Linked DNA regions of Homo sapiens: regions 1, 2, 4, 5 and 6 are each reported to be linked to region 3. Evidence: microRNA targets listed by miRTarBase, many of them from high-throughput screens and not tested one by one. Region 3 holds a microRNA gene; each other region holds the end of a gene's coding sequence.

The links. The annotated mature microRNA hsa-miR-6785-5p reads UGGGAGGGCGUGGAUGAUGGUG and lies in region 3 at 2,524-2,545, opposite strand. An mRNA with a match to its seed (bases 2 to 7 or 8) in the 3' UTR can be bound and repressed. Matches are read on the target gene's strand: a 7mer-m8 pairs with bases 2 to 8, a 7mer-A1 pairs with bases 2 to 7 and ends in A, and an 8mer does both.
Region 1: the mRNA of TMEM167A is a reported target of hsa-miR-6785-5p. Seed matches in the 3' UTR shown: 7mer-A1 at 3,205-3,211.
Region 2: miRTarBase lists FAM151B as a target of hsa-miR-6785-5p. The part of its 3' UTR that is shown has no 7-base or 8-base seed match.
Region 4: miRTarBase lists HHIP as a target of hsa-miR-6785-5p. Seed matches in the 3' UTR shown: 7mer-A1 at 1,138-1,144, 7mer-A1 at 1,001-1,007 and 7mer-m8 at 664-670.
Region 5: miRTarBase lists BRI3BP as a target of hsa-miR-6785-5p. Seed matches in the 3' UTR shown: 7mer-A1 at 1,934-1,940, 7mer-A1 at 1,800-1,806, 7mer-m8 at 1,497-1,503 and 7mer-A1 at 1,410-1,416.
Region 6: the mRNA of AFG2A is a reported target of hsa-miR-6785-5p. Seed matches in the 3' UTR shown: 7mer-A1 at 1,729-1,735 and 7mer-A1 at 2,167-2,173.

Annotation. Positions count from the first base shown.
Region 1 is chr5:83,052,831-83,057,905 of GRCh38, reverse strand. It overlaps TMEM167A (transmembrane protein 167A), which reads left to right. Exons shown (of 4, transcript NM_174909.5): 4 at 752-5,060. The coding sequence ends at 822. Among named protein-coding and RNA genes, the nearest start is that of TMEM167A, 22 kb to the left of the region's middle.
Region 2 is chr5:80,541,008-80,546,082 of GRCh38, forward strand. FAM151B (family with sequence similarity 151 member B) reads left to right here. Exons shown (of 6, transcript NM_205548.3): 6 at 666-1,556. The coding sequence ends at 825. Among named protein-coding and RNA genes, the nearest start is that of ANKRD34B, 27 kb to the right of the region's middle.
Region 3 is chr17:75,496,023-75,501,097 of GRCh38, reverse strand. MIR6785 (microRNA 6785) reads right to left here and starts at 2,550; the gene lies at 2,470-2,550. TMEM94 (transmembrane protein 94) reads right to left here. Exons shown (of 32, transcript NM_014738.6): 23 at 5,024-5,075; 24 at 4,627-4,816; 25 at 4,291-4,368; 26 at 3,900-3,985; 27 at 3,236-3,317; 28 at 2,775-2,923; 29 at 2,560-2,654; 30 at 2,376-2,469; 31 at 2,016-2,186; 32 at 646-1,836. The coding sequence ends at 1,764. CASKIN2 (CASK interacting protein 2) reads left to right here. Exons shown (of 20, transcript NM_020753.5): 20 at 1-837. The coding sequence ends at 18.
Region 4 is chr4:144,737,568-144,742,642 of GRCh38, reverse strand. HHIP (hedgehog interacting protein) reads right to left here. Exons shown (of 13, transcript NM_022475.3): 13 at 1-4,879. The coding sequence ends at 4,686. All of the region lies in intron 1 of LOC124900791 (a long non-coding RNA gene), which reads left to right. Among named protein-coding and RNA genes, the nearest start is that of HHIP, 94 kb to the right of the region's middle.
Region 5 is chr12:125,024,672-125,029,746 of GRCh38, reverse strand. BRI3BP (BRI3 binding protein) reads right to left here. Exons shown (of 3, transcript NM_080626.6): 3 at 1-4,756. The coding sequence ends at 4,317. THRIL (TNF and HNRNPL related immunoregulatory long non-coding RNA) reads left to right here and starts at 2,324. Exons shown (of 1, transcript NR_110375.1): 1 at 2,324-4,304.
Region 6 is chr4:123,313,282-123,318,356 of GRCh38, forward strand. AFG2A (AAA ATPase AFG2A) reads left to right here. Exons shown (of 16, transcript NM_145207.3): 16 at 607-5,075. The coding sequence ends at 783. Among named protein-coding and RNA genes, the nearest start is that of SPRY1, 81 kb to the right of the region's middle.

The DNA of each region.
Region 1 (5,075 bases), not on the chromosome of region 3:
TGAGTTAACTCACAATGACATGATCTCTATCTGTTTGCGAGACAATTCACAAGCCAGTTTGAGATTTACTTCGTACAAAGGAAAGCATCCAAATACAAGCATTCCTTAAATGCATGTGAAAAATTGACTGATACAGAAGTGGTTAGTTTTAGTTCTACTTTTCTAACCCAGAGTAAGCATACTATCTCAGAAATAGTTTTTCTAATTTTTTTAATTAAGCATTTTAATTTGTCCATTTTTTAAATGCAGTTTTATTGACCATCCTCTCTTTATTTTCATCCATGAATGCTCCCCCTTCCCTGTACCTTTAAGTGTCACAAATTGCTACCAGTAAGGAAAACTGTTGTGTCTTTTTATGGATGGAAGTTTTGTTCTTTTTATAGACAGAAAATAAACAATATTTCTTTGGCCTCAATTGAGTTGAGATCGTTTCTCTTGGATCTCTGTCCTACATTCTGCATTGTATTTTTTAGTGTCTGAGTTTACACAGTGACAAAGAAATGATGCTTTCGAGGTTTTCTAAATATATGAAAAGAAGATCCTCTTAGAAATAAATTGATATATTAATAGTTTAGCCCATTCTGTATTGTACTTGTTTTTTATGTTGCATCTAGTTTTTGTCACTGCCCCACCCCCAATGTGCGGGCCTCCTAGGGAAGAATGTTATCTTGATTCTTATGGTAGTATAACCTTGTCATAGCCAGGTTAGCCACTCAGTTAATCAAGATGAACATCTCCTTTTTTTCAACAGGTGAACGGAAGAGTCCTTATGTTGCAGTATGCTGTATAGTAATGGCCTTCAGCATCCTCTTCATACAGTAGCTGGGGAAAATGCCAGAATGTAGTTGCCATCAGATTTGATTGTGAACAAGGACTGACTGCAGAAAATAATGGAAAGGATGTTTAACTCTTTTATCTCCGAACATTGAATGAGATAAATTTCCAGATGCTGTTCTCTATTTTAATGTTATTGGACCAATGTTCTGTATAAACAATTAAGATGTAACCATTTAATAGTCTGTAACAATCAACCTCAGTACTGTCACTACAATATTACATTCTGCAAATGTTATTCTGTTGTATCAGATACAAAATTTTAGTGAGGTATCTCTAAGGCACATAGTAGAAAACAAAATTGGTTAATTACTCAAGTTCCTTTCACTGTGATTTGGAAATGATTTAATCTTTATAGAATGAGAACCTTTTTTGGACTAGCTTTTTTATTAAAATGGCTCAATTTGTGTTGATAAGGATTGCATTAATATTTAATAGTGCTTGCTTTTCCTCTGGGCACACCATTTTGATCATTAACCAGAGTACCTCTACTCTTAGCAAACTCTAGTTTATGACAAGTATTTAAAATATTTAAAACAAGCTTATGCAGTTCTTAAGGACGAAGGTAAATGAGATGTAACTTAAAAATAGTATTGGGAAAATGTTGATAGTTAACATTAGTGGATTTAGACTAGCCAAATGACATAGTAGGCTCTGAAACATCTTGTCAAGTATATGTATTTTGTGCATGAATTTTTGCTGGAAAGCTGTCTTTCTCTGAAAAACACAACGTTCTTAGAATGAAAAGAACAATTATAAAATAATTATCCTATATGTGTTTTTCATTCTTTTTAGTGTCATGGCTTCAAAAATGAAACATTTATTTTAATTGCCGTAAAGGAACTGTATTTTTGTTTTGTTTTTTAACACAGCACTTTAAATCCAGTTTGTGTTTTGTCAACTTGAACTGGAATCTCTTTTGTTACTTTGGAGGTGATAAATAGTTTTCAAATCTGCTGATTTGTATACTGTGGCACAAGTATCTTTGAACTTTGATAGTGAAAGGAGACCTTCAACAATTTTTAGTCTAGGCGAGAGGAATATTAGGAATGTGACTTCTAAATTTTACAATAGAGCAGTTATTTTAAGGTCATGGTTAACATTTCTTAAGGTTCAACTAAAATTCAGTTAAAATTTCAGAGCTACGAGGAACTTAAATCTTAGCTAAAAATTACCTGTTGTAGATAGTATTAATTAGATTGTTTGCAGCTATTAATTCATCATAAAGATAAAATGAAGAAACTCTCCCTTTTTTTAAACAAAAAAAATTATTTCTAGATTAATAGGCTAGTAGTTATTTCTGCAGAAACAACGTATGGAACTGAAAGCCACCTATTTTTATTTTAGACTAATTTAAACCACTTGGAATGGATTCTAGGAAACATCTTAAGCTTGTGTGTTGCCTGTGGTGGTTTTTTGTTTGGGGGTGTTTTTTGGTTTTGGTTTGATTTTCTGTATTTTGTTATCTGGGGATTTTTTGTTTGTTTGTTTTGGTTTGGTTTTGGTTTTATATTTTTGGCATGTCTATGGCAGTTAAAAGTGGTATATTTTGCTTTAGATAGGGAATCAGGTTATAATCATTGTTCTTCCTCTAAACTGCCTCTTGGGCTTTACATCAGGTCAAGGATTTTTAGGGTTTCTCAAAAATAGGATTCTTGTCAGTGTATGCATGCTGAGTAAGTCACCTTTCTGGCTCTAATTTCTGGGTGGCCATCTGTTGTCCAGCTCTGCTGCCAACTGGACTTTCCGAAAGCCATGTCAACTAATTTTTTATATGCTAAGACAAATCGAATATGAAAAGAGGAAGAATATTCTAGATATTCTAAGACATTTCTTAATTTGGCATCTCAGAGGAGGTAGGTGGAAAGTAAAGGAAGAGATAATTTTGGGGGAAAATTTGTGGAAACATACAAAACGTTTTGCTTTGTATAGATGCTAAACAGAGTGGGAGGCAGCATATTTGTAACAACAACCATTCTGACCTTTTGAAACACAAGCTTTTGGAGAAGTCAGGGAGAGACACAGTATGAATAAAAGCAATTAACATTTTCTTTAATGTATATTTTTCAAAGAGGACCACGGAATCCTGTTCTCTAACCCAAGGGGCAGTGTAGGTGGTTTTAAGCCCACAGAATATTGAGATATTTCTCTTGTGGTTTTGGTGGGGTGGTGGGATGCAGAAGGTTATTAAAGATCAATTTAAGCATCAGATAGACTATCCCTTTTATTTTTTTAACTTTTAGGTTCAGGGGTACATGTGCAGGTTGTTATATAGGTAAACTCATGTCAAGTGGTTTTGTTGTACAGATTATTTTGTCACCCAGGTGCTAAGCCTAGTACCCAGTAGTTATTTTCCCTGCTCTTCTCCCTCCTCCCACCCTCCACCCTCAAGTAGGCCCCAGTGTCTGTTGTTCCTTTCTTTGTGTCCTTGAGTTCTCATCATTTAGCTCCTACTTCTAAATGAGAACATGTATTTGGTTTTCTGTTCTGTGTTAGTTTGCTAAGGATAATGGCCTCCAGCTCAGATGGAATATCTCTATCATATAGACCTGTTGTTACAGGGCAGGATCGGATGATGGACACTGAAGTCCTCAGCTTGCTAAGTTCAGTTGCTCTCCCTAGCCTCCTTTTGGCTTCAGAGTCTTTTGATTCCATCTATCCTGGTATTTTTTGTGTGCTGATGTTTAGTTCTGGATTGGCTTCAGCTGTGCTAATAGGAAGGGCGTTGTCTTTTCAAGCAATCTTAAAAGGTGGTCAATCAAAAGGCCAGAGTCTGAATCCCTTCTGTGGCTTAAATAATTTGAGGATCAAGTCCAGTGTCTTGTTAATCCCTGTTCTACTGTGCCAGACACTATCTTGAATGCTTTTATATGTTCAGGTTCAAAATCGCTCTTTCATACCAGGGGATGATAGTAACGTGTAACTTGCAATAGATTCCTTCATCTTAGTAATAAGATGATCAGTCTAGTTAGGACAAAATAGAGATTGAATAAATTAACTTTTCCAAGTTTACAGAGTAAAAATGAGCAGATCTCTGCCTGGTTTTGTGAAAAAGAGTTAGCACTGGTAAATAGAATATTTCTACTCCTACACCATTCTTTCAGTATATCATCACTGAAGACAGGAAGATAGGCACACAGATTCTTCCTCGTAGTAATTCATAGTGCACTAGGTGAAAGAGATGAAGTATGTATTAAAAGTACAATGTGATGGCATTTATTATTCAGATAATCCCAGGATTCTAGAAGAAAATAAAGAAGAGTGACAGTTCAGTTAGGGTGTGAACTTCCAGAGGAGCACTGCTTAAGCTGAACTTGAGAGCATTGTGCAAAAGCACAGTAGTCTGTTAAGAACTAGAAATAACCTAGCTTGTGCCACTTCGGGAGTATTAAGACATAAGCCTAGAAAGGTAGGCAAAGGTTAGATCTTAGACTGTCTTGTATTTTTCTCATTCCTGTTGATTACCTACCTCAAAATTGAATATGTTTTTCCTCCTGCCTAACACAAAACTACTCAAGGGCAGAAATTTAAATTCTTCCTTGGTGTATGTGCAAAGAAGGTTGAATATATTCATGCCTACCTTATTTTGGACTAGGAATACAGTAGTATACTTTCCGAAGACTTGCCTGAATAGTATATAAGGTGGAGGCAACTGACTAGTTAGGTCAGTATTTTTAGAAACTCTTAATAGCTCATACTCTTGATACCAAAAGCAGCCCTGATTGTTAAAGCACACACCTGCACAAGAAGCAGTGATGGTTGCATTTACATTTCCTGGGTGCACAAAAAAAAATTCTCAAAAAGCAAGGACTTACGCTTTTTGCAAAGCCTTTGAGAAGTTACTGGATCATAGGAAGCTTATAACAAGAATGGAAGATTCTTAAATAACTCACTTTCTTTGGTATCCAGTAACAGTAGATGTTCAAAATATGTAGCTGATTAATACCAGCATTGTGAACGCTGTACAACCTTGTGGTTATTACTAAGCAAGTTACTACTAGCTTCTGAAAAGTAGCTTCATAATTAATGTTATTTATACACTGCCTTCCATGACTTTTACTTTGCCCTAAGCTAATCTCCAAAATCTGAAATGCTACTCCAATATCAGAAAAAAAGGGGGAGGTGGAATTATATTTCCTGTGATTTTAAGAGTACAGAGAATCATGCACATCTCTGATTAGTTCATATATGTCTAGTGTGTAATAAAAGTCAAGATGAACTCTCAAGAGCCTCCTACTTTT
Region 2 (5,075 bases), not on the chromosome of region 3:
AATGCAACAGTAGTAGTGTCACCAGAAGAAATAGAAGTGTACAGTTTAAGTAACATTAACATTCTGAGCATATTCTTACATCTATAATGAATTTACATAGGTTATTGGTTTTCAGCTCATCAGAAAAAGATCTAAATGTATTCTATTTGTCATTCTTAGTGAAATCTCTTGGCATTCTTGTATCTCATACAAAAACCTCCAAAAGAAACAGCAGGGCCTCCGTATATGATTCTAAGTATTGTGGATGTCAGTGACATTTGTGTCTCTTCACAATCCCTTCCCATTGTGCTTTTCACCCTGACCAGGCTCCTGAACAAACCCAGGTTACAGATTCCTCCATCAGCAACATAGTCTCTTCGATTCCTTTTTCCAAAATTAGAACCATTTCCCATGCCACTCATCTGGTTTCTTAGTCCATTTAACAGTCCTGCAATTCAGATAGAGCAGTTATGTCGTTTAGACAACAGCAGTATGAATGTTTTTTTGTCTCTAGTCCCTCTTGATGAAAGAATGAAATATGAAAGTACAGTTACACCATTGCTGATTAATTTTTTCATCTGAGTGCATTTGAGTTAGAGATAAATGAAAGCATTTTTAGGCTTATTGGAATGACTCATCGCTTTCTTCCACTTTTAACTGTATAATTCTGTTTTATTTCAATGCAGGTACAGCCTGACTATTTGGACTGGAAAAAATGATAACTATTCCGTTGAAGATTTACTTTACATTAGAGACCATTTTGACAAAAAACAAGTTTTCTATGACATCTTGGAACCACAAAACCATGAATTTAAACAAGCCATTGGAATCAAAGTTAATCTCTAAGAAGAAGATTCTCAATTATTTCCTGTGTTTTGGTTTCATAATCCTTCTCTCCATTGGTCTGAATTAATTACCATATAAATTATGGTTATTGATTGACGTTCCAAGTCATCTAATCAAGAAACGTTTATTGTATGCTTACTCTGTGGGCATATGTCCTTATAATAGTGCACTTACATAAAAGATTTGGAAAGAAGAGATTTATTTACACACGTGGCCTAGTCTAATAATAATTCAGGAAAATGATACTCTGCACCCCTTCATAAAAATAGTTTTGATAAACTAAAGATGATTGGCAGAATCCATATGTCATAAAACAGGTATAAATCACATGTGCTTGGCACTTGCATTACAGAGATTATGAAAAATATGGTACTCTTTTCCTTTTTCCTAGAAAACTGGTTATTTTAGAGATAACAAAAAAGGAAGAGGGCTTTTAAAATGTTTTTAATTTTCACAGGGGTCAGCAGCTGTCTCATATCAAGATCTATTAATCCATTTCCTGAAACTGTAGATTAAATTAGATAGATCTAGAATTTCCATGTGATTGAGAAGCATGCTAGTGGCTAAGTGTTTTTTTTATATTTCTTATTTCTATAGTATCTGATTTATAGTGGACAATATACTGTTGGAGAGCAGTTTTAGTCTTTGTTATGTATCATTTGTTTTCCAAGTTTCTTACTGCCACCACCTTCATTCAGGTCCTTGTTCTACTAGTAAAACTTTATGAACTACTTTTTTCACGGCTCATTCCTCACATTCTACTCAGAGATCTGAGTTTTTCTGCTAAACAAAACTTTCTTTTCTTTTCTTTTTTTATTTATAATAATAATAATTATTATTATTATTTTGAGATGGAGTCTGTCTCTCTCACCCAGGCTGGAGTGCAGTGGCGTGATCTTGGCTCACTGCAGGCTCTGCCTCCCAGGTTCATGCCATTCTCCTGCCTGAGCTTCCTGAGTAGCCGGGACTACAGGCGCCCCCCCACCACGCCCGGCTAATTTTTTATTTTTTTAGTAGAGACGGGGTTTCACTGTGTTAGCCAGGATGGTCTCTATCTCCTGACCACATAATCTGCCCTTCTCAGCCCCCAAAGTGCTGGGATTACAGGCGTGAGCCACCACGCCTGGCTTTTTTTTTTTTTTTTTTTTTTTTTTTTTGAGACAGAGTCTTGCTCTGTTGCCCAGGCTGGAGTGCAGTGGTGTAATCTTGGCTCACTGCAATCTCTGTCTCCCCAGTTCAAGTGATTCTCCTGTCTCAGCCTCCCAAGTAGCTGGGACTACAGGTGTGCGCCACCACACCCAGCTAATGTTTGTATTTTTAATAGAGATGGGGTTTCACCATGTTGGCCAGGCTTGTCTCAAACTCCTGACTTCAGGTGATCCACCCACTTCGGCCTCCCAAAGTGCTGGGATTGCAGGTGTGAGCCACCACACCCAGCCAAAACTTTCTTAAATACCTCTTTCTTTATGCCAAATCAAAAACCTTCAAGGGCTTAAACTCAATTTTACTCAGTTTTCCTCTTTCAAGACCCTTCATAATGCAGTCCCACCTAAAAGTCAGTTTGTTGTGCTCCAGCACGGTTCTTCATTTAAAAAATTTATTCAACATCAATGGTTTCTAGATCCTACTTTAACCATTAATCTTAACTATTTAGTTATTTCACTAATTGACACGTGCATGTTAGCTATGTCTCCTCAGCTAGACTGTAAATTCCTTTATGGCAAAGGTTCATGCTTAAGTATCTTTTACAGTGCCTGGCATAGTCCTGAGAAAAACATCCAGAAAAATATGTTGCTGCTTTGATTTATTAACAAGTAATTTACTAGTGAATGTCCTAAAAGATGTAATTTGCCTTTTGTCAATCAACCATTTTTCTCCCAGAGAATAACATAGTTCTATATAGAGAAAAGATCTTGGGTTTTGAATTCAGACAGATTTTCTTTACAGCCCCACCTCTATCCCTTACTAGCCATAGACTTTGGGAAATCTTTAATGCCATTGACTCCAGGCTCACTTGTCTATAAAGTGGAGGTGGGGGAATAAAATTTCTCTTGTAGGGTTGTTGTGAGGATTATGTGAGATTCATGTAGTAGAGATATCTAGCTCAATGACATAGTGAATGCTCAGCAAAGTTACTCTTCTTTTAGACTTATCCTGTGATCATGTCCATTATAGCTAGATAGCACTAAGAGATACAACATCAAACATTGTAGACATATAAATACTTAAAGACAATTATAGTATTTCCACTTGAAAATTCAGCTCTAGTCAAATGGAATGCTTCTTGTCAAATCATACCTAAAACTTTACTATCCATGGTTGTTTGCCAAAGACAAAAGGTGCAATTTCATTATAAAATTTCAACTGCTATAGAAAATAACTTTTTAAATTATAGTAAATTAATTTATAAATTTTCTACAAAGACCATGCATTACTAAAGACAGGTGAATTTATAAATAAACTGCCTTTTGTTGAAGTTCAAAGTAAAACTCACTTGTCCAGAATATTATTTTTACTACTTAATTGTCCTACCTTTGATAATTTTTTTAAAATATTAATATTATGGTAAAATTATATATTGAGAAATCTATAAGCCTAATATCACTTAGTTTTTTTTTTTTTTTTGAGACAGAGTCTAACTCCGTCACCCAGGCTGGAGTGCAGTGGTACAATCTTGGCTTACTGCAACCTCCACCTCCCAGGTTCAAGTGATTTTCATCCCTCAGCCTCCCAAGTAGCTGGGATTACAGGACTGTGCCATCACACCTGGCTAATTTTTGTATTTTTAGTAGACAGGGTTTTGCCATGTTGGCCAGGCTGGTCTGGATGGAACTCCTGGCCTCATGTGATCTGTCCGCTTTGGCCTCCCAAAGTGCGGGTATTACAGGCGTGAGCCACTGCATGCAGCCTCACTTAGATTAATATTTAAAGGTGTATTTTAAACTGTTCTCAGGAACAAAAACGCATAAGAGAATTATAAAATGTATTCTGTTGGAAAGTAAAATTTTAATAGCTATCCATATGGAAAAAAATAACCTTGATCCCTACCTCATGCCATATACGAATAATTTGAGATGGATCTTAGGCCAAAATGTGAAAGCTAAAACCTTAATGCATTTAGAAGAGAATAAGGGAGAATGTTTTCAGGACTTTGGGGTAGGCATAGGTTTCTTGTAACCCAGAAAACACTAGCCATAAAAGGAAACATTGATAAATAGACTTTATCAAAACTTAAAACTTCTCAGAAAAGACACCATTGACACATATCTGACAGAGGGTATATTACTCCTTTAAACTATAAGAAAAAAACCCAAAAAACTGACTAAAAATGGGCAAAAGACTTGAATAGATACTTCACACAAAAAAAATAATTCAGATGGCCAAAAGAATATGAAAAGGAACTCAACAGTATTCCTTATTCAGGAAAGACAAGTTTAAGCCACAATAAATGCCAGTACATACCCACCAGAGAGGTTAATATTATAAGGACTAAAAACACCTTTTAGGAAAAAAAGGAAAACAGTTTGGCAGTTTCTAATAAAGATAAGTATATCTCTACCTTAAGACCCAGCCACTCTATCTGTAGCCATATACTCAAGAGAAAAGAGCTCATGTATTTACATTAAAAGACTTGTAAAAGAATGTTCATAAAAACTTAATAGCCAAAAACTAGAAACAACCCCAATTTTCATCAGTAAGAGAATTTATAAATAATGGTAGACTCATACAATGAAATTACTACACAGCACTAAAACAGTTTGAACTGATGTAACAATAAAGGTTATTAACAACATCATGCAAAAAAAAAGGCACAAATGAATACATATTCTCTGGATCCATTTATATGAAGTTAAATAATAGTCAAAACTAATACATGGTGCTAGAAGTCAGAATAGTAGTAACCTATACGGTTCTGTCGGGTTTTGTCTGGGATGGAGCATGTTGGAACTTTTTTGGGTGTTGAAAATGTTCTCTATCTTGTTCCGGGAAATGGTTATTTTGATGTGTACATAGGCAAGGCAAAAAACTTATTGAGTTGTCACATTTAATATTTGTGCATTTTACTGTATGTAAATTATATATCCATTTTCAATATATTTTAAAGGCCTTGATGTACAGAAATGCAATAGAATACTATGCAGAAACTTTTTAAAATTTTTTATTTTTTTGATACAGCATCTCGCTCTGTTGCCCAGGCTGGAGTGCAGTGGAATGATCTCGGCTCACTGCAACTTCTACCTCCCAAGTTC
Region 3 (5,075 bases):
GACGCCATGCTGGACTGAGCCCTCCAGCAGTGCCCACTGTGACCTGCCGAAGTCCACTGCCTTTGCCCCAGCACAGAAGAGGCCCCTGCCACCCTAGGGACGGGCCAAGGGCTGGTCAGGCTGAAGTGCCCCTCCTAGCAGGGCCCCTTCCCACTCAGCCCGCGGCTGTGGGCACCACAGCTCTTGTGGGGCAGCCCACCTTAGAACCTGACTAGCGAGGGACCTCCGCTGCATCTCAGCAAAGCCCCTCCCAGGGTTTGATCGATTGAGCAGGACAGCCCTGCTCCTGGACAGGGACCCTGGTAAGAGCTCTCTCCTCAGGGAGGAAGTAGGGGTGGGGCTTTGGGGGTGCTTTCTCTGTACCCCCCAGCCCATGTCCCAAGTTGTGCCAAGGGAATGCCTCTTGCCACCCACCATCCTGCCCAGGCCCTGAGAGGCTGGAGGAGGCGTGTGTCTGGCCGGGCCCCCTCTCCGTAGGTGTACAGAGGACATGTAAATACACAGCGGTGGTGCCCAGGCAGCTCCTGCCCCCGCCTTCCCTCACTGAGGCAGGGCTAGCAGGGGTGGGAGGCAGTGGGGTTAACAGATCCCACAAGTCCTAACTTTTCAATTGTAAATGTTATTTTCTAAGCAGAGAGAAATGCATATATTTTAAATGGAATTTATTCTATCAACTGCCTGAGAGGACACAATGGGGGAGGGGCTTCGGACCACAGCAGGAGCCCCGACTGCCCACCTGAGGGCAGGGAGAGCCTGACCCCATTGGCCCAGGCCCTGGCTCTGTAACCATTAACCTCTTCCCCCAACTAACACCAATGAAAACACCATTCCACGTGACTGGGCTGTGTGTTTGCCTCTGTGACATGGGGACCCCTGACCCTAGGGGTCTCGCCTGAGCCAGACCTGAGGGACCCACCCGCGTAGATGGAGGAAGGTTTAGGCCTCCCTTTGCCAGCCACCGCCGGGGGTGGGCAGACCCTGGAGTGGCCTTACAGACCAGCCACAGGTATTTCTTAGCAATTGACACATTTTAATACAAACCAGTCTACATTCATTCCTAAAAGGCTCATTTCCAGTAAAAAATATACACCAGTAGAAACTTCTCCCAGAACTGGGGCAGAGGCTGAGGAGACCTGGGCCAGATTCCCCAAGACTGACAGGCAGCCAGCTTGAGCCAGGCACAGGAAGAGGCTCCAGGGCGAAGCGGGGGCCCTGCTCCATCTTCAGGTTCAGGCGGGAGACTCCCCCACAGAGGGAGGGAGGGGAGGCACTCGGGGCCACATCCAGGCAAGCACCACCCCCCTGCCCTCCACGGCAGCCTTGGGAGTTGGACGCGTCGGCCAAGGCTGCTGCTGTTGCTCCTCCAAAGAAGGTTGGCTTCAAGGCCGTGTCCAGGGACCCACGAGCAGAGGCACTGGGGGGCAAGGGATCTCCAAGGGGGCAAGGGATCCCTAAAGGGGGTAGCTCACAGGTGAGGGGGTTTAGGGCCCCTCTAGGGAGCGCCTGAGGCCATACATTCAAGAGTGTCCCTGGTGAGGCCCAGGGAAGAGCCAGGACTGGCCAAGGGCCCAGGCCGTCAGCTCCTCCACAGTGAGCCCCAGGGCTCAGGAAGACAGCGGGGTCTGACACGGGGAGCTGGGTTTCCAGTGCCACGGGTGCAGGAGCAAACCTGGAAACATTCATGATACAAACTCCCCTGTTCAGAAATGGGTCTGGCTTTAGCCCCAGGGACGGGGGCAACTACAGCCACCACAGCCAGTGGCTCAGAAGGGAGAGTTCATGCCCAGCTTAGTTTCAAACTGCAGCTTCTGTCGCTTCTGGTAGCGGACTCGGACCCTGGTGGGGCAGGAGATTAAAGTACAGGTTGGCAAAGATCCTTAGACCAGGGGCCGGGGCAGGACACCAGAGGAGGAGGGAGGGATGGGCAGCGGAAAGGTGGGGGAGTGTCGCCAAGGGAGTAACAGGTTTAGGGAACATGCCTGAGCCCAGAGGGAGGCGCCCTGCTGACAGCTCACCGAATCTCATGTAGCTTCACGATCTCATTGGTCACCACCACAAGGACCAGGGACAGGCAGCCCAGGAGCCATGTCAGCAGGGGCACGTCCTCCAGGCCAAAGTGGACGTGGCTGTCCCTGTGTGTCCACAGCTGCAGGTCCACAGCCGTCTGGACCACCTGACCCAGCAGCCTGCAGGAGGTGGCGGCCCCGTGTGAACCCGACACTGCTTGCTTCCTTCCCTGCTCTTCCCAGTACAACAGTTAGCTCAGGCAGGGTACAGTTAAACCACTGGCCCCGGTCCCGCCCTCCGATCCTAGCCCTGCAGAAGGCCCTCTCCTCCCCAGCCCACACTCCGCCCTCCATCCTAGCAATACTCACACCACAGGCACTGTCACGGCCCACCAGAGGTTGGTCAAGGGGCTCTTTCTCCACAGGGGCTTGGTGCGATGCACATGGGTGATGGAAATGAAGACTGGGGAAGGTGGGGCGATGTGGGGGTCAGACTTCCACAGTGGGGCTCCTCTCCCACCATCATCCACGCCCTCCCAGGGAGCCCTCTCACCAGTGTGCAGGACAATCAGGGCGGCCGTGAGCTTCTGAGCCGACAGCAGTCCATTGGCAAAGTCCTCAAACCAGGCTGGAGCCCTGTCGTCGTTGCTGCCAAAGTGAGGCATGGGCTCAGCCCCTCTAGGGCCGCAGGGAGGTAGGCTGGGGTGGGGAGGGAGGAAGCCTCGAGGCGAGGCAGGCGATGGGTGGATCTCTGGGGCTGGGACCCACCTGGGCAGCATGACGGAGGAGCAGTTGGTGAGGTTGCGGTCCCGGGAGCTGTCACAGAAGCTCTGCAGTGTGAAGCCAAAGCAGATGAGGCAGGAGCTGATGGTGAGGCTGAACTTGAGCAGGAAGCAGAGCAGGAAGTAGTGCTGGGTCTGCGGGAACAAGGCCAGTCACTCCTGGGGCGCACAGCCCCTCTGCCGGCTGCTCCTAGCTCTTCCACGTATTCAACGGGCTCTTAGTAAATGGTCAGGCCTGGGGGGATAGGGAGCTCAAGCCCCAGCAAGGGTCTTTCCCAGCTCTGTGCCACTACCTCCTCTTTGATCTGGGGGAAGACTAGGAACCAAGTGCCGGAGTTCTGCTGGAATCCCCCATCCAGAGCCTTCCAGATTAGCCCCTCTCTCCTCCCCCAATCCTCAGTCCCTTCCATGCTCACTTGCAAGGCTCACAGGGTCTGTTTTGCTTACCTTCTTGGGAATGGACTGGAGGTTTTTCCCCGTTGCCATAGACATGATGGAGCTATGGGGGGGCTTCCCCAGCAGAGAGATGCTGAAAAGCAGAGATCAGGTAGAGGGATGGTGACAATGACCCTCTGTCCCTCAATTCTCATAGAGGGAACCTCTAGGGAGTCTTGCGCGTGAGGTCGAGTCTGGTGAGGGGATGGAATAAAACAAAGGCTGGACGGCAGTGGCTCACACCTGTAATCCCAGCACTTTGGGAGGCTGAGATGGGCAGATCATTTGAGGTCAGGAGTTCAAAACCAGCCTCGCCAACATGGCAAAAACCCATCTCTACTAAAAATACAAAAATTAGCCAGGCATGATAGTGGGTGCCTGTAATCCCAGCTACTCAGGGGGCTGAGGCAGGAGAATCACTTGAGCCCGGGAGGCGGAGGTTGCAATGAGCAGAGATTGCACCATTGCACTCCAGCCTGGGTGACAGAGCGAGACTCCATCTCAAAAAAAAAAAAAAAAAAAAAAAAAAAGACAAAGGGGGTTCCCTCCATGCCTCCTGTACCAGAGGAGGTGAGACCTGAGCAGTTCCAGAACCTTGGGCTCCTGGGGCTGCACAGTGACATCCAGACACCTCCTGCTTAGGCATGGGGTGTGGGGAAGATACATGGCATCTCACCTGAGCAGAGGGTAGCAAAAGCAGGACAGCCACAGGATGTCGGTGGTACTCAGGAGTGGCGGCAGCTGGACCAGGCAAGAAAGGAACTAGACCAGGAAAGAAGCCAAGAGCCACAGTTCAATTCAGGCAAATAATAAGGGCATAGGAGCCCCCGAGCTCCCTTGCCCTGGGCCCAGATAGATGCTCACATCCTGCCAGAGGGAACAGGGGCCGGAGGGAATACTCTTCTGCCAATGAGGGTCAGCTCAAAAAGCCCAGGGGCTTCACAGAGGCTCTGGGGGGACCCCTTGACTGTACTGCTAACCCCAGCCTCCTTCCTCAGATTTTCAGCTGGCCCCTGAGTGAAGGGGTGAGTGGCACGGGGGCAATGCCTGTGCGGGCCCCACCTCACCTGGATGACCACAAGAGTCAGCTGGCACTGCAGCAGGAAGAGGAAGCACTTACGGATGCCATAGGTGGCATGCCGAGCCTAGGGACCAAGAGGGACAGATTATGGCCTGGGTCTACCTGGCCTCTCCCAGGCCCAACAGCTGACACACTTTAGCCAAGAGCCAGACGCCCAGGATGCTTCTACGAGGGGAGCAGAGGCGAATGTAACTGCCTGGGAGAGCCCGCTCGGAGGGCTGGGGAATGAGGTCCCCGGGTTCAAACAGGTCCTTTGCTGCTACTCCCACCCCAGGCGGGTCCTGTCCTGCGTCTCTCCTCCTTTGCCTGCCGAAGCACCCACCTGTTCGATAAGCCGGATGATGCTGATGGTCTCCTCCTGGCGAAAGGTCAGGGAACAGGGCAGGCTGTTGAGCTGCCCTGACAGCTGCAGGGGAGAAAGGCCATCCGAGGCCTGGGCCATGCTGATGCTGGTGGCGTAGCCAAAGGTCTCCCAGGAGCAACGGGATGGGTACAGGGGATCCAGGGCAATGCTGCTCAGGGTGGGGGACACACACACTTCAGCTGTATCTCCCACAGGACTGGGCACCCCACCCTCTTCTCCCACCATGCCCAGGTGCATTGGTCCCAGCCAGGGCGAGGTCGGCTATAGTACACACCCCCAGCCCCACGCAGGCCCATCTGATCCTCCGGTCTGGGAGGTAGAGGCTGGCCCGCAGGCTCCAGGGTCCCGCCCTGACCTGATGTCGCTCTGGAGGAAGAGGCAGCTGTTCCGCAGGTTGGCAGAGCTGC
Region 4 (5,075 bases), not on the chromosome of region 3:
CATGGGACTTTGGTCTGAGTCCTCTGCAACTTCAAATCTCATCCCAGGGGTGAGGAAATTAAGATTTATAAAGTCTCCATTGAGGAACTGCTTCTTATTTTTTCCTCACAGATTTGGAATAATTTTCTTAAAATTATTCCATAGAGAAGGTTGTTCCTTGGCTAGGAAATAGCTACTAACTTTCCCTGCTGTTAGCTAACCCCAGTGTTATTCTCCATGTCTTTCCTGTATCTATGCTAGAGCAGCTGAATTGGAGCCTCTGGACTGTTAGTGATTTCTGCTCTTCCTTATTTCTTTCAATGATTGTAATAGATCAGCCTAGTATGTCATTTGTTTACTATCCACTATTATTTGTTATATAGAATTTGAGAAAATGTGGAATCAAGAGAGGCTATTTTTCAGAAAAACAAAGAAAAGATCATAACCAGCAAAATCAACAGCAATCTAGCCCAGGATACCTTCAACATGGGTGTATTGAGAACATGTCTATTTAGGCAAAACCAATAGAAAATGTAGGAGAGGGAAGTGGTTAAAAGGAAAAAGAATATATGTATGTATGTATGTATGTGTGTGTGTGTGTGTATATATATACATACATATATATATACACATACACATATATATTAGCCGAGAGAGCGAGAGGGGGAGAGAGAGAGAGAAGGAGGGAGGGAGAGGAGGTGAACACTGACAGTATAGGTAACATTTTATAAATTACTTGGTTAATCAGTCAATTACAATTAAAACTACAACTGCCAATAGTATACCTTAGCCTTCCTCTAAAAATTTGGGCTTGATTTCTCTTTTATGTTTCAAAGCTAAGAGACTTAACAGAAAGTTAGACTAATAAAAGTTTAAATTAATGTATATCTTGAATGCTCCTAGATGTAGCATCTAACCTTATACCTGGTAAGCTTGTATAGTTTGTAACTCAGAGATAAAAACAATATCAAAAGCAAATGGAAGCTGGGCATGGTGGCTCACGCCTGTAATCCTAGCACTTTGGGAGGCCTGGGGGGCTGGATCACTTGAAGTCTGGAGTTTGAAATCAGCCTGGCCAACATGGTGAAACCCTGTCTCTACTAAAAACACAAAAAAATTAGCCGGGTGTGGTGGCGGGCACCTGTAATCCCAGCTACTTGGGAGGCTGAGGCAGGAGAATTGCTTGAACCCGGGAGGCGGAGGTTGTAGTGAGCTGAGATTGTGCTGCTCTGCAGCCTGGGCAACATAGCAAGGCTCCGTCTCAAAAAAAAAAAAAAAGAAACCAAAAAAAAAAAAAAAACAGCAAATGGATTAAAATTGTTAGTATACTATTTTGTAATTATTTTCAAAGAAATAAATAGGGAAGAAGTAACTTCTCTGGGGCATGCAAATGACAAAGAAAATAGTTTTCTATTTAGGTTGTGTGTATATATTGTATGTGTTGGTTTCTCTACTCTTTATGAGATACTCATTAATCTGAGAAACCTTCCGAGTATTCTTCATGATAAAATAAAAAAATATATTTTACAATAATTACATTGAAAAAAATCCAAGAAGAAAAGTTATGGATGGAAGCACTTACTTTTAGCCATCACTCAATTTCTTAAATTTTTTCTCTCTTTCACTTAAAGATCTGCCAAATTGTGTTCCTTTTATTACCTTAAATAACTGTCAAGAAAACAAGGTTCTATGAACCAGGACAACAGTGTGGCAGAAACAGTAGTAGAAAGGTTATTTCCAACCATTTAAAACAACTATAACATCATTTCACATTCAACTGACAACCGCAGCTTAAACTTGAGAATGGACAAGGGAATAATAATATACATTTTTCTTTTTCATTATTTCGTCTTTATCTTATGCATCAGTATTCTTACGAAGGACCTTTTTTTCTTCCATTCGAGACTGTGTGCTTTATGAACTGAACAGATGTTGCCTTTCATGTGATTAAACAATAATTTTTTCCTGCTCATACTTCTTAACCAATTCCTACCTGCCTCTCATCATGAATCATTGAAGATAATTCTCCAGTCATGCATTTAAAAAAATCTACTTGAAAGAAAAGGTCAAAGAGAATTTTTGAATTGACCACTTAATTTAAAATATGTTGCCATCAATTAGCCAGTGCTATCTACTTTTCTCCTAAGAACAGAAAGAAATGACTCCAATGATTTTACTTTCTTTGCTTGGCTTAATATCCGTGGATCTTGCTATCTTCTCTTGAGAAGAACTTGGCCTTTCATTCTAATGACTCACAAAAGAAAAGGCAATGACACCTGGGGCACATATGTTTTTCTAAGTCACTTGAAAATCTTTCACTTGGGAAAAAGCTGTATAAAAAATCTGGGCCTGGTCAACTTAATATAGATATTTTAAAACAGTAGAACTAATGGCAATAGAACACCTTTTATTTTGGGGAGGAGATGGAAAGTTTAAAGATGTAAGAAGTAATGCTTGATTTTTTTAGATTTTACTGAATATATAGCAGTATCCTTATTGTTTTCAGGGAAACTAGGAAGAATTGGAGAATGTGTAATAAAACTGCACGATTTGACAGATTTAGACAGCTGGCTCCCTCACAAGAAGTTCACATTTTGTTAATGTCACCCACGTTGAATAAGGGACAATTAGATGGTAAGGTCCATTTACAAAAATGGTTGTCAGGACATTTTTTTTTAATTGTAAAACTTTCTGTGATGGAATTCAGTAAAAGGGCTATGAAGAGAAAGCAATGGAGACAAAAGATTGCTATTAACCTACAGATGCAGGCTACTGCATGGTTCATTGCAAGATTTGTCACACTGTTGGGCCAATGAAGTGTTAGTGTGACTAGAAGGGACCACCCCTTTTCTGGGGTAAGAGGGCAATTTGGTCTCCATGCTCATTTAATCCTGAGACTTCTTTGAATAGACTGTCAATTGAATCTAAATTGTGCAAAATTATGCATGCACTTTTTAATGCAGGCTATTGTTCACTAAGCACTGAACCAAGATTTCTCAACCCATTTCCATTTGGCATGAGGTCACTTGAAACTTAAGTAATCATATATGGAAGACAAGAGCAGTGTACTTAACCAATCTTTCTACATTGTGGCTTCTATATAAATGCTTACTGGGCTTTAATTGCAAATCTCTCACCTTAAAACAATAGAGAAATACTAGCTACAATATATTTTTTAAATTGAGGCTTGTATTCCTAAAGGTAAGGAGAAGGTTTAGAAAGTCAGCTGGCGCTGCATAATCTATACTGCTCTACAATTTAGATTCTAGAGGAATGGATGTTTACAGAAGAAGGACAGCCATAGTGGGTGTGCACTTGTCATGAGTAGACGTGTTTTTTCACTAGTGCAAAGAGGCCTTATATTTTGTTAAAATCCAAACGTGGAGAGCTGGCTTTGAAAACCATGAAGAAAAATATCTACTAGACTTTTTGCAGTTTTAAGTCAGAACATGTCATCTCTGTAAAACCCTGAACAGAACATTTACAGAAAATTTATTGATACATTAGCCAAAGAGTATTTTCATTGAGTTCTGAAGGAACACGTACATTTAAAGTCATATTTGGCAAGAATTATTATGTTAAAAATTTGTACAGGTGACAGCTTACATAGCCAAGATTTTTAAAAACAAGTGAGCTCTTCTCCAGTGAGGTTCGATTCAGTGGAAATCTGCAACATTCTAATAACATAGACTCTGACAGTCTTGCTATGGTGAAAAGCACTTTACAAATGTTTAATGCTGGAATTTTATAAGGATTGGCTGTTTTCTTGCTTTTTCATCCGTCGTTAATGATTACATGTTGGCACAAGGATACCTTGCTAGATTAGATCCACAGCACATTAAAGACTGTTTGCTTTCTCACTCCCCTTCTTTCCAATTAAGTTGGTGAAAAATGTAACTTTAGTGTTTTACAGGACAGGGTAAAGGTGTTTCATCTAGGTGATGTCTATATTATAAAAATAAAATAAAATATATAAATATGTAACACAAACCCAGTGCCTATTGTTAAATAAAATATACAATAAAAGCAGACCTTTTAGGAAGATTGATTTTAAAATATGCTATTATGATTTAATTATAAAACACTTGAAAACAATCTTGAGATTAAGATGAAATAACCAGATTTCTCAGCCAATAAAAAGGTAAGTGTGTAGCATTCTGTAACTGGATACACTGACAAAAATGAAGATTACAATTTTATATCAAGTTGCTCACTTAGAAATTCATCAGGGAGTTCTGAAACATTCTCTCCTAGTATAGTACTTTAATATAAAAATATTGCCTTTTTTTTAATTAGATCCATCGGATTGCACAGTACTGTTTCAAAACTCTATTAAAGTTGACTTTAGTGATTACAGACAGAAAATTCCTGGGAAGTCAAATAATCTCTTCTAGTAACATAAAAAATCCATTATCAATTTACAATGGAATTTCTGTGTAAATTACTTTGCATAAGGAAGTATATATTTTAAAAAATCATCTGTTATGCAACAACGCATATAGGGGTTATGAGTATGTGTATGTGCATATGTGAACAAACATGCTGACATACACACAGAGGATCTGCACATTTCTGGAAATTATTTTTAAATTAATAAAAGAGAATGAAATCACAGGAGTGTGTAGCAGGATAACAGTCTTTTTTTTTTAATGACAGGATAAAAAATAAATGCCCATTGGAATAGAATATTCAAACAGTCCCAGAAACTATACAATGTAACTTGTTAGATCCAGCAAGTAAGATGTCATGTCAATGATCTGATCAAGAATACCTGCCCTGGTCACTCTGCGGATGTTTCTGTCCACTTGTTCACATTGAGGACCAAGATATCCTTTTTTACAGAGGCACTTGTTCGGTCTAACACAGACACCTCCATGACGACATGCTGGCTCACATTTTGCTGGGAGAGAAAAAGAGCAAGAACATCACACTCTCATTCTGTATGTCAGAAACAGGACTGAGCATGAGACCAACAAATATTTGCTGAATAAGGGAAGCGAGGGAAAAAAGGAGGGAGATAGTTACAAAATGATCTGAAAGATAAATATGCAAGTAGGAAACAGGCTTTTACACCCATAGTTATTTGGAGACCTGAA
Region 5 (5,075 bases), not on the chromosome of region 3:
CACTTACCCTTTGTGAATTAAGACACAGGCACGATTCACAAGGTCTGCTTCCCAGAAATTCTATTGCTGTGCTCTGTTACCAGAAATGATATGGGGGCTGAAATCCAAAGCAAAAGAAACCAAAGGGCGGGTAATGCCGACTGGTATTGGAAAGTGTGTGTGTGTGTATATATATATACATATATATACACACACACACACTTTTTTTTTTTTTTGAGACTGGGTCTCACTCTGTCGCCTCAACTGGAGTACAGTGGTGTGATCTCAGTTCACTGCAACCTCTGCCTCCCAGGTTCATACAATTCTCCCACCTCAGCCTCCTGAGTAGCTGGGACTACAGGAACCCACCACCACACCTGGCTATTTTTTTTTTTTTTTTTTTTTTTGTATTTTTTGGTAGAGACGGGATTTCACTATGTTGGCCAGGCTGGTCTCGAACTCCCGACCGCAAGTGATCCACCCGCCTTGGCCTCCCAAAGTGCTGGGATTACAAGCTTGAGCCACTGCACCCAGCCTGGAAAGTATATTTATGAAAGGTTTGCACTCCACAAAAGCATCTTTGCTAGGGTGTCAAGGAAGAGATCACTAAACCAACCCCAACACATCCATACAATTCCAGCAATCTAGAGAGGGCTGGTCCTTTTCCTTTTCTGGATTATTTTCTGTTCTCAGTAAAACAAGTATTTACTGTGATACTGAAACACTGGGAAATTAACACTGATTAAGATATTTTAAACACTGAGTCTTAATTATAACAGAACCAGTTTTCATCAGAATGCTTTTACGTCACATTCAGTGAAGTGTTACGCTAATATATTCTACAGCCCTGAAGATAGAAAAAAGGTTTCTCTCCAGGTATGAGATATGGTACAAAAATACATTTTTCCACATACAAAAGAGAGAAAAAAACAAAGACATGTGGCGGGTGGCGAGGGGAGGCCCAATCCCAACACCCTACAAGGTTCCATGGAATGGAGAAGGAACAAAAAAATCCCCAATTATTTTGGGGTAAGATGTGCCCCAGAAAAGGTGAAATCTATGCAATAAAACCCAGGTTTTCTTCAAATCTAGCATCTAGGATTTCTATCAGAGTTTCAAATAATCAGAATTTCTATCAGAATTTCTACCCTGAGGTGACACCTACTAACTGTAGGTTCTTTCATTAAAAATGAAGACATCTTTCACCAGAATGTATCAAGCTATAAAACTGGCTTCAGAGCCTACACTTAGCCAGAGTGGAAAAAAAAAATAGTGCATATTTTCGACAGCAATTTTGAATTGATGCTTGAGGTCTCAATCCACCAGCACCCAGATATCATGTTACCTCCCTCAGTTGAATACAAGTTAAAATGATGATCTTATCGAGATCTCAATAGAGCACAGTGCCCTTCATGTTTCGGGTAAGAGGGTGGGAGGAGGAATGAAGCGGGTATTACACCCAGCCCAGTGACAGCTTAAGCCTTAACATGCGGGCATCTTACAATGACCATAAACAAGGGAGGGGCCAAGGCAGGGCTGGCGATCATTAGCTTTGCGCACAGAATGCCATGTTTTCCCCTGGCCAACATAAGCAAAGCTGTTTTAGTACCTAAACGTGGTATAGCCAAATGCACAAAAGGAAAGAAGATAGAGATGACCTCCCGAGTTATTTATACCTTGTGCTAAAATAGATTCATCTACAAGTATCTAAATGACAAAACTAGAATGATTTCAACCCAGTAATCCTGTGTTCCAATGTGCATGGATAAAGATTTGATCTAGGCCCAGCGCGGTGGCTCACGCCTGTAATCCCAGCACTTTGGGAGGCCGAGGCGGGCGGATCACGAGGTCAGGAGATCGAGACCATCCTGGCTAACACGGTGAAACCCCGTCTCTACTAAAAATATAAAAAATTAGCCGGGCATGATGGTGGGCGCCTGTAGTCCCGGCTACTTGGGAGGCTGAGGTAGGAGAATGGCGTGAACCCAGGAGGCGGAGCTTGCAGTGAGCCGAGATGGTGCCACTGCACTCCAGCCTGGTTGACAGTGAGACTCCATCTCAAAAAAAAAAAGATTCGATCCAGCAAATAATTTTTTTTGAGACGGAGTCTCACTCTGTTGCTGAGGCTAGAGTGTGGTGGTATGATCTCAGCTGACTGCAACCTCCGCCTCCCATGTTCAAGCGATTCTCCAGCCTCAGCCTCCCAAGTAGCTGGGATCACAGGCGCCCACCACCAGGCCTGGCTAATTTTTGTATTTTTAGTAGAGACGGGGTTTCACTCTGTTGGCCGGGCTGGTCTCAAACTCCTGACCTCAGGTGATCCACCTGCCTTGGCCTCCCAAAGTGTTGGGATTATAGGGGTGAGCCACCCTGCCCAGCCTGCTCCAGCAAATCTTAAATATCCATGCACACTGAATAAACATGCACCTGAAACAGGTGCACGTTTCAGGAAGTGAATGGAACTCTCCAGGAGAGTTTGGGTCCCATCATGTGTACCTTAGAAACAGAAGTCTCAAAAGTCTCAACAACATCCACAAAAACATCTGCATCTGTTTTCCAGATACTTGCAACCAAAAATAAAACTTCACAGGAACACTACACAAGAAGTGGTAGACAGCTAAATCTTCTCCAAACTGAGACCTGGACCATAAGGTCTTGGTTGTAGCAGGTCTGGCAGGGGTTATCTATAAACCTGCACGCAGGGCACTGTGAGCGGGTTGCCAGGGTACATCTGTGGCCAGGTAAGGGCCACAGAGACAGTCGTGATCCCCAGCAGCTTCAAAGCTGCAAAATGCTGGGCTTTTTTTTTTTTTTTTAAGATGAAGTCTTGCTCTGTTGCCTAGGCTGGAGTGCAGTGGCGTGATCTCGGCTCACCGCAACCTCCACCTCCCAGGTTCAAGCAATTCTCCTGCCTCAGCCTCCTGAGTAGCTGGACTACAGGCACCCACCACCATGCCTGACTAATTTTTGTATTTTTAGTAGAGACGGGGGTTTCACCATGTTGGCCAGGCTGGTCTTGAACTCCTGACCTCAGGTGATCCATACTCCTCGGCCTCCCAAAGCGCTGGGATTACAGGCATCAGCCACTGCGCCTGGCCTAGGGCTTTCTTTTTTAAAAAACAAGTCCTAACAAAAGGGGGTTTCTACCAGCCCCTGAGCCACACCTTCTGAAACTCCCTTGCCCAGGATCCCCACAGCTGTCCACCTCGCAAGTCCCACTCTCTGCCCACAGAGACTGCCTAAAAGGAGGACACAACAGATTTCAGATAAAAAGCACCTGTGTATCGTAAATATTTCAGGAAAAAGAATTCAGATCTTTTCAAAGGCTTGCTTATTGCTGCTAATTGTTCCTGAGGATCTTTCTAAGCAGCAATATACTTGAGAATATTAGCTGCTACTGTTTGTTTTCCCTCTAAGGTCCTGAGGAAATCAAAAGAAAAAAAAAAAAACCCTCAAGGGTATAGCTTTTGTATATAGCCCTAGTGAGCAAACTGCAAATTGGGACATGCAGTAGATTCTGGAGCAATCTCCAATCCTTACCAGGTACTTCCTGGCATCAAATCCCCAGGACATTTCTTGGCCCCTCCTTGCATTTTCCGTTTCAAAATGTTGAGGTTAAAATACATCGAAGCACAGAGGGAAGAAAATCTCAGGTCTTCTAGAAATGGCGATGTCTTCATTTAAAAATAGGACTGATGGGGGCTTGGCAGGGGTCTCTAGGATCCAAAAGAGGTTGAGTTGCATCCTGCAGCCCAACTGTCCACATTTAGAAGTGACAACATTCATGAACTAAGTCAACATCCACCAAAAATAACATGAAATAAAGCTCACAGTTTGGGAACATGAAAATAACGCACACAGACCTCACCCACCAATCCCTAAGCTGTGAAAACAAACGCTCGCATTTAAACTTTTCTCAAATGTCAAATTAGCATATTCTTCCCCTCCATGTAAAGTTTTAATAAACTTGACTCAATCTGCCTTTATTAAAAAACCTTACAAAAGATGTATTTAAATGCTTGAAAAAATTAACTTTATGCTCTATGCACAGATAAATTTCTCTTACTGTACAACTAAATATGGTTATATCCTTTGTTTAAAAAATATTTTTTCCCCCACTAATTACACTTCGTGTGTAGTTCCACGTCAATGATCTTTCCGCTCTTCTGGGAATGTGTCCTAAGAGCTGCCGGGTGGGTGGAAATAGCCCTACACAGCGCCACTTTCTTGCTCAGTCGTGTTTATTAAGATTGTTTGGGGTTTGGGGTTTTTTTCCTCCGTTTTCGTTTTCTGAGACAGCGTGCTGGTAACTGTGGACCCGCCCGGCCGGCTGACCTTCACTTGTCCTTGGAGCGGTCCAGGCTCTCGAGCACCCGGTTGAGACGGATGTTGAGCAGTCTGACCTGCTTCTCCAGGTGCTCCAGCTTCTCCTCCACGCTGGGGTTGCTGGGGTTGCTGGGGCCGCTGGGACTGCTTCGCCAGTAGAAGCCCATGGGCCCGGTCATGAAGTAGACGGCCACCACGAAGCACAGCGGCAGCACCGCGTTCTCCGGCTCGCCCTCGTACTTGTGCAGGATGTACACGCAGGACATGGAAAACAGGACGACCCGCACGATCCAGAAGAAGCGGCCGAACACCACGTGCAGGACGCTGAAAGTGAAGCCCAGGGTCAGGGACAAGAACCAGTAGGCCAGGAGGACGACGCCGACCAGCAGGAGCGCGCGGGCCGGGCTGCTGGACACCGAGGCTGGGCTGAAATACTGGGACAGGTTGGAGACTGCGGGACAGAAAAGAGGAACAGGGCTCGTTACGCAGGGGCCAGGGGTTTCTTAACAAGCTAGAATTGGATAGTTGAGCTGGCCTGTGGGGCTTAAAAGGCCTTTGCAACAACCAAAGGAACTCAAGGAAGTTCCTCTGTGAATAGTCACACTTTGCTCCATGAGGACACACAGGGAAGCCTCTTTTTTTTGAGATGGAGTCTTGCTCTGTTGCCCAGGCTGGAGTGCAATGGTGTGATCTCGGCTCACCACAACCTCCGCCTCCTGGGTTCAAGCAATTCTCCTGTCTCAGCCTCCGGGGTAGCTGGGATTACAGGC
Region 6 (5,075 bases), not on the chromosome of region 3:
TCTGTTCTAATGCAGCTCTCCAAAGTAAATGTTGACAACCCTATCTGATATTCCTGAGATTTAAGAACTCATTAAAGAGATACACATAAAGAAATGCTTTTACATGTTGGTAATACATCAAAGGTTGAAAGGAATGTGGAAACTCTGTGCTATGACACGGTGTGTTGATGAGCAAGGCCTCACTCTGTATCAGAATATCTCCCCCTCTGCCCTCCCTTGACCGTTGGCTCCCGCCTCCCTCCACCACATAGAGACATGCATCCTTTGCCATCCCTTGTTAAAAGTATGTGCGTGCACAGCTACCTACCCTTACAGTTAAGAGCAAATGCCCTTAAAAGCAAATGCCACTTCTTAGATATCTTTTGGCACTCCTGGTTCTGAGTACTTAATACGTTGCTTTGGGATGAAGGAAAGAACAGAATGCTCTGTATATGATTACCTTTTATCCTTTTGAAAACTTGAGTGGACTAATTCTTGCAGATAAATTTTAGCAATGGGCATTTAGTTGTAGAAGGTACCACAGATGAATATTTGGAATATTATGTTTCTAAAAGAGTACTGATTGTTTTCTACCTCCTTTTATTTACTTATTTTTTAAAATTTCAGATTGTAGCTGTCTGCAGAGAGGCAGCTCTTCTGGCTCTGGAAGAAGACATTCAAGCCAATCTCATCATGAAAAGACATTTCACTCAGGCCTTGAGCACTGTGACACCTAGAATTCCTGAGTCATTGAGACGTTTTTATGAAGATTATCAAGAGAAGAGTGGGCTGCATACACTCTGAGAAAATATATATATTCAAGATGCTGAAAATCCTTTCCAGAGAAAATTTGTTTCTTTTTAAAATTTTTTGAGAGTGTTAAAAAAAATTTTACTAGGCAAAATGTTTGAAGTATGTTCAGTAGAATTTAGGGGCTTTGGTTCTTACAGATTTTCAAGTCATGTAAGTACAGTGAAAATATCTCTGAGCATAAGTTTCAATCAGTTTTACCTGGAAATTTGTGGTGTGGTTTAAAAAACAAATGTTTAGCTTTTTCATTTGCGACCTAGTCTGTTCATCCCATGAAGCGATTTCTTTTTCCAGAATCTGTTTGAGTGTCTTTCTAAAATGCCAAACATGTTGGCATCAATTTTATACAGGGATATAAAAAAGTATATGTGGATAAATTTTTTGTAATCTTTAGGGATATAAAAAAGTGTATGTGGATAAATTTTTTGTAATCTTTATTTTTGAAGGCCAGCCAGTAAAATGGCCCAATGTGCCAGCCAGGCTTATGTGGCCTTGTTTTCAAATATACATATATGTGTTATCATTAAAATTCATATATGCATTTTTGTTTTAGCCTTCTTAATCTCTACCTATGGCCAAAAAAATTTTTTTTGAGAGATATTTTGTATAATACAATGCCCTTTGAAAGTGTAAGCCCACTCTAAGCCTAGATCAGTAGGCTTGGGTTTTTTTTGTTGTTGTTTTGTCTTTTTTTTTTTTTTTTGAGACAGAGTCTCACTCTGTCACCTAAGCTGGAGTGCAGTGGCACGATCTTGGCTCACTGCAACCTCCGCCTCCTGAGTTCAAGCAATTCTCCTGCCTCAACCTCCTGAGTAGCTGGGACTACAGGTGTGCACCACCACACGCAGCTAATTTTTATATTTTTAGTAGAGACAAGGTTTCACCATGTTAGCCAGGCCGGTCTCGAACTGCTGGCCTCAGGTGACCCACCCACCTGAGCCTCCCAAAGTGCTGGGATTACAGGCGTGAGCCACCATACCTGGAGAGGTTTTGTGTTTTTGTTTTTTTTTCATAAAATGCTTTTAATAAATCATATGAAGCATTCATGTTTTTACTTATACATATTTTCAGGGTACCAGTAAACTTTTTAGTTCAAAGATAGGCCAAATTGTACTTTTTTTTTTTTATGAGACAGAGTCTCGCTGCTCTGTCGCCCAGGCTAGAGTGCAGTGGCGTGATCTAGGCTCACTGCAAGCTCTGCCTCCTGGGTTTACTTACGCCATTCTCCCGCCTCAGCCTCCTGAGTAGCTGGGACTACAGGTGCCCACCACCATGCCTGGCTAATTTTTTTTTTTTTTTTTTTTTATTAGAGACAGGGTTTCACCGTGTTAGCCAGGATGATCTCGATCTCCTGACCTCGTGATCCGCCCGCCTCGGCCTCCCAAAGTGCTGGGATTACAGGCATGAGCTACTGCGCCCTGCCGCCAAATTGTAATCTTAAACATATTATGTTGCATTCTAAATATGTATATTTATGCTTCTTGTTATTTATCCTCAGGATTTCTTCACACTTTATTACTTCATAAATACTCTTGAAAAAGCTTTCAGAAAGTGATTCTCTGACTTCAGATCAGAAACTGGCAATGGGAAGAATGTGCACTTAAACTTGATCACTGTAGATCTTTGAAAATTCCCAGAAAGACAAATCAGACAAGAAATACCTGATTATCAAAATAATGGGCTATACAGTTTTGTGGTGGCATACATTCCTTGTTTGTTTGTTTAGAGATAGGATCTTGTTGTGTCACCCAGGCTGGAATGCAGTGGCACAGTCGTAGCTCACTGCACCTTCAAACTCCTGGAGCTCAAGTGATCCTCCTGACTCAGCCTCCTGAGTAGCTAGGACAACAGGTGCACACTGCCATGTCAGGCTAATTTTTTTTTTTAAACAGAGAGACAGAGTCTTGCTGTGTTGCCCAGGCTGGTCTCCAACTCCTGGCCTCAGGTGACCCTCCTGCCTCAGCTTCCCAAAGGGCTGAGATTACAGGTGTGAGCCACCATGCCCAGCCTGTGGTGACATATATTCTGAAGTCACATCTCAAATATTTAATCCTCAAATATATTTACATCCTCAAAAATATCAGATTTTCAAGACAACACTGGTTTACCAGTACATAAACCCACCTAGGGGACAAAGAATATTACCACTTAGAACTGTGTTGTCAAATACAATAACCACTAATTGTATCTGACCATTTTAATTAAATTAATTACAATTAAATAATATTTAAGAATTAGTTTATCAGACATATCAGCCACATTTCAAATGCTCAATAGCTACATGTGGCAAGGGTCTGCCACACTGGACAGAGTAGAAAACATTCCCATCATTCAGAAGGTTCTCTTGGACGCTGCAGATCTGGAAAACAAGACTTCCATATTGAAATAAATACAACCTCAAAACTTTTATGCTCTGTGTTCCCTTTAGTTGTTATCTACATAGAAAATTATGAAACAAGAGAGGAACTTACCTTCTTCCCTATTAAATATATGGCTAAGGGCACAAGAAAATAAGAGGAAAACTTATCCTTCAGGGCCTAAACAAGGAAATGAAAGAAATCTCATTCCCAATAGAATAAAAACCAGAAGCTTGAAATGACTCTGGTGCAGGAGGCTGGGTGGTGGGGAGGAGGGTAGCAGTCTCAATCAACAAGTTTAGATATTAATAGCCACTCAAAGCCTTCAGCCCATATAACATGAAGTGACAACTGAGCTCTGCACATAATGCTCAAGCTCTATAATAACCAACACTCTCAGCACAAGGGTAGACAAGAAAAGAAAAATCTCCTGCTGGCCAGGAAGACCACAAGGAGGCTTTCTGACTTGGCCTGTGCTTTTGATTTTTAAAACATTTTTTAAAAGAGGCCTCTCTGGGCTGGGCGCGGTGGCTCATGCCTGTAATCCCAGCACTTTGGGAGGCCGAGGCAGGCGGATCACGAGGTCAGAAGATCAAGACCATCCTGGCTAACACAGTGAAACCCCGTCTCTACTAAAAATTCAAAAAATTAGCCGGGAATGGTGGTGGGCGCCTGTAGTCCCAGTTACTCGGGAGGCTGAGGCAGGAGAATGGCGTAAACCCGGGAGACGGAGCTTGCAGTGAGCTGAGATTGCGCCACTGCACTCCAGCCTGGGTGACAGAGTGAGACTCCGTCTCAAAAAAAAAAAAAAAAAAACCTCTGAGAATTCTGACTATGAGCTTACCTGCCCATGGCTTTAGAATGATTTGAATTCACACTACCTTCAAATTCATGAAACCTCAAAACCTACAAATTAACCTAAAAACATGGAGCCAAGCTAAAAATGCCCTGGGGGTAACTAGCACTTGGACTAGTTACAGGAATGTAGCTTCGTCTCAGAGGATTCCAAAAGCTAATGCCTTGCTTACCAAGGGCTTGTAATCTCACAGGATGTGATGGGTGGGGCCTCAGATCTGCTGATGGGAGCATAAATTGGTACAACCACTTTGGAAGGCAACTGGCTATCTAGCAAAGTTGAAGACCCTACAATCTAACAGTTCTCCTAGGTGCATATCCCAGAGCAAGTCTCACATTGATGCAGTGAGATAGTGAATAGGAAAGTTCATAGCACCATTATTTTTAAGTAGTAAGAACCCGGAAACAATCTAAATATCCATCAGTAATAGATATATGTGATAGTCATACAATGGAATACTGTGGCAATAAAAAATAATTAGAGCTACATATGAAATAGGGATGAAACATGGATGAACAAAGAATGTTTTAGAGGAATATGATATTTAAAATTTGAAGCATGAAAAATATGTGTTTATGGGGGCATATATAGTGGAAGAATAAATGAATAGAAAAGAAAAGCACCAAATACTGGTGAGGAATTTCCTCAGGGGAGAAAAGTTGAGCTGCTTCAATTGTGTCAGTAATGTTTCATATCTTAGGGTGGGTGATGGGAATATAGGTGCTGATTTAATATAGTCTGTACTTTTTGTGTACCTAAATATTTCGTGATAATTTTTAAAAGATGGGCCTTAAACCAATACAGTCATATCATTTAACTCAATTCCATGAATTTACAATGCAATCCACAGTGCCCACAACCCCATGTTTCTGGAAAATCAGGAGTATTGGGTACAATGGAATAAAATGCAAGAAGGCAAATAAGAGATCAGGCTTTTAGGACCTAGGAAACAAATAAAGAGGAATTTGTTGCTGAAAGTAATGTGTAGCTGACACTCTCATTACCTGACACAATGGGAGACATTATGTCTGGGAATAAGACATCTATTTCCATAGCACTGTAGTCCTGCAAAG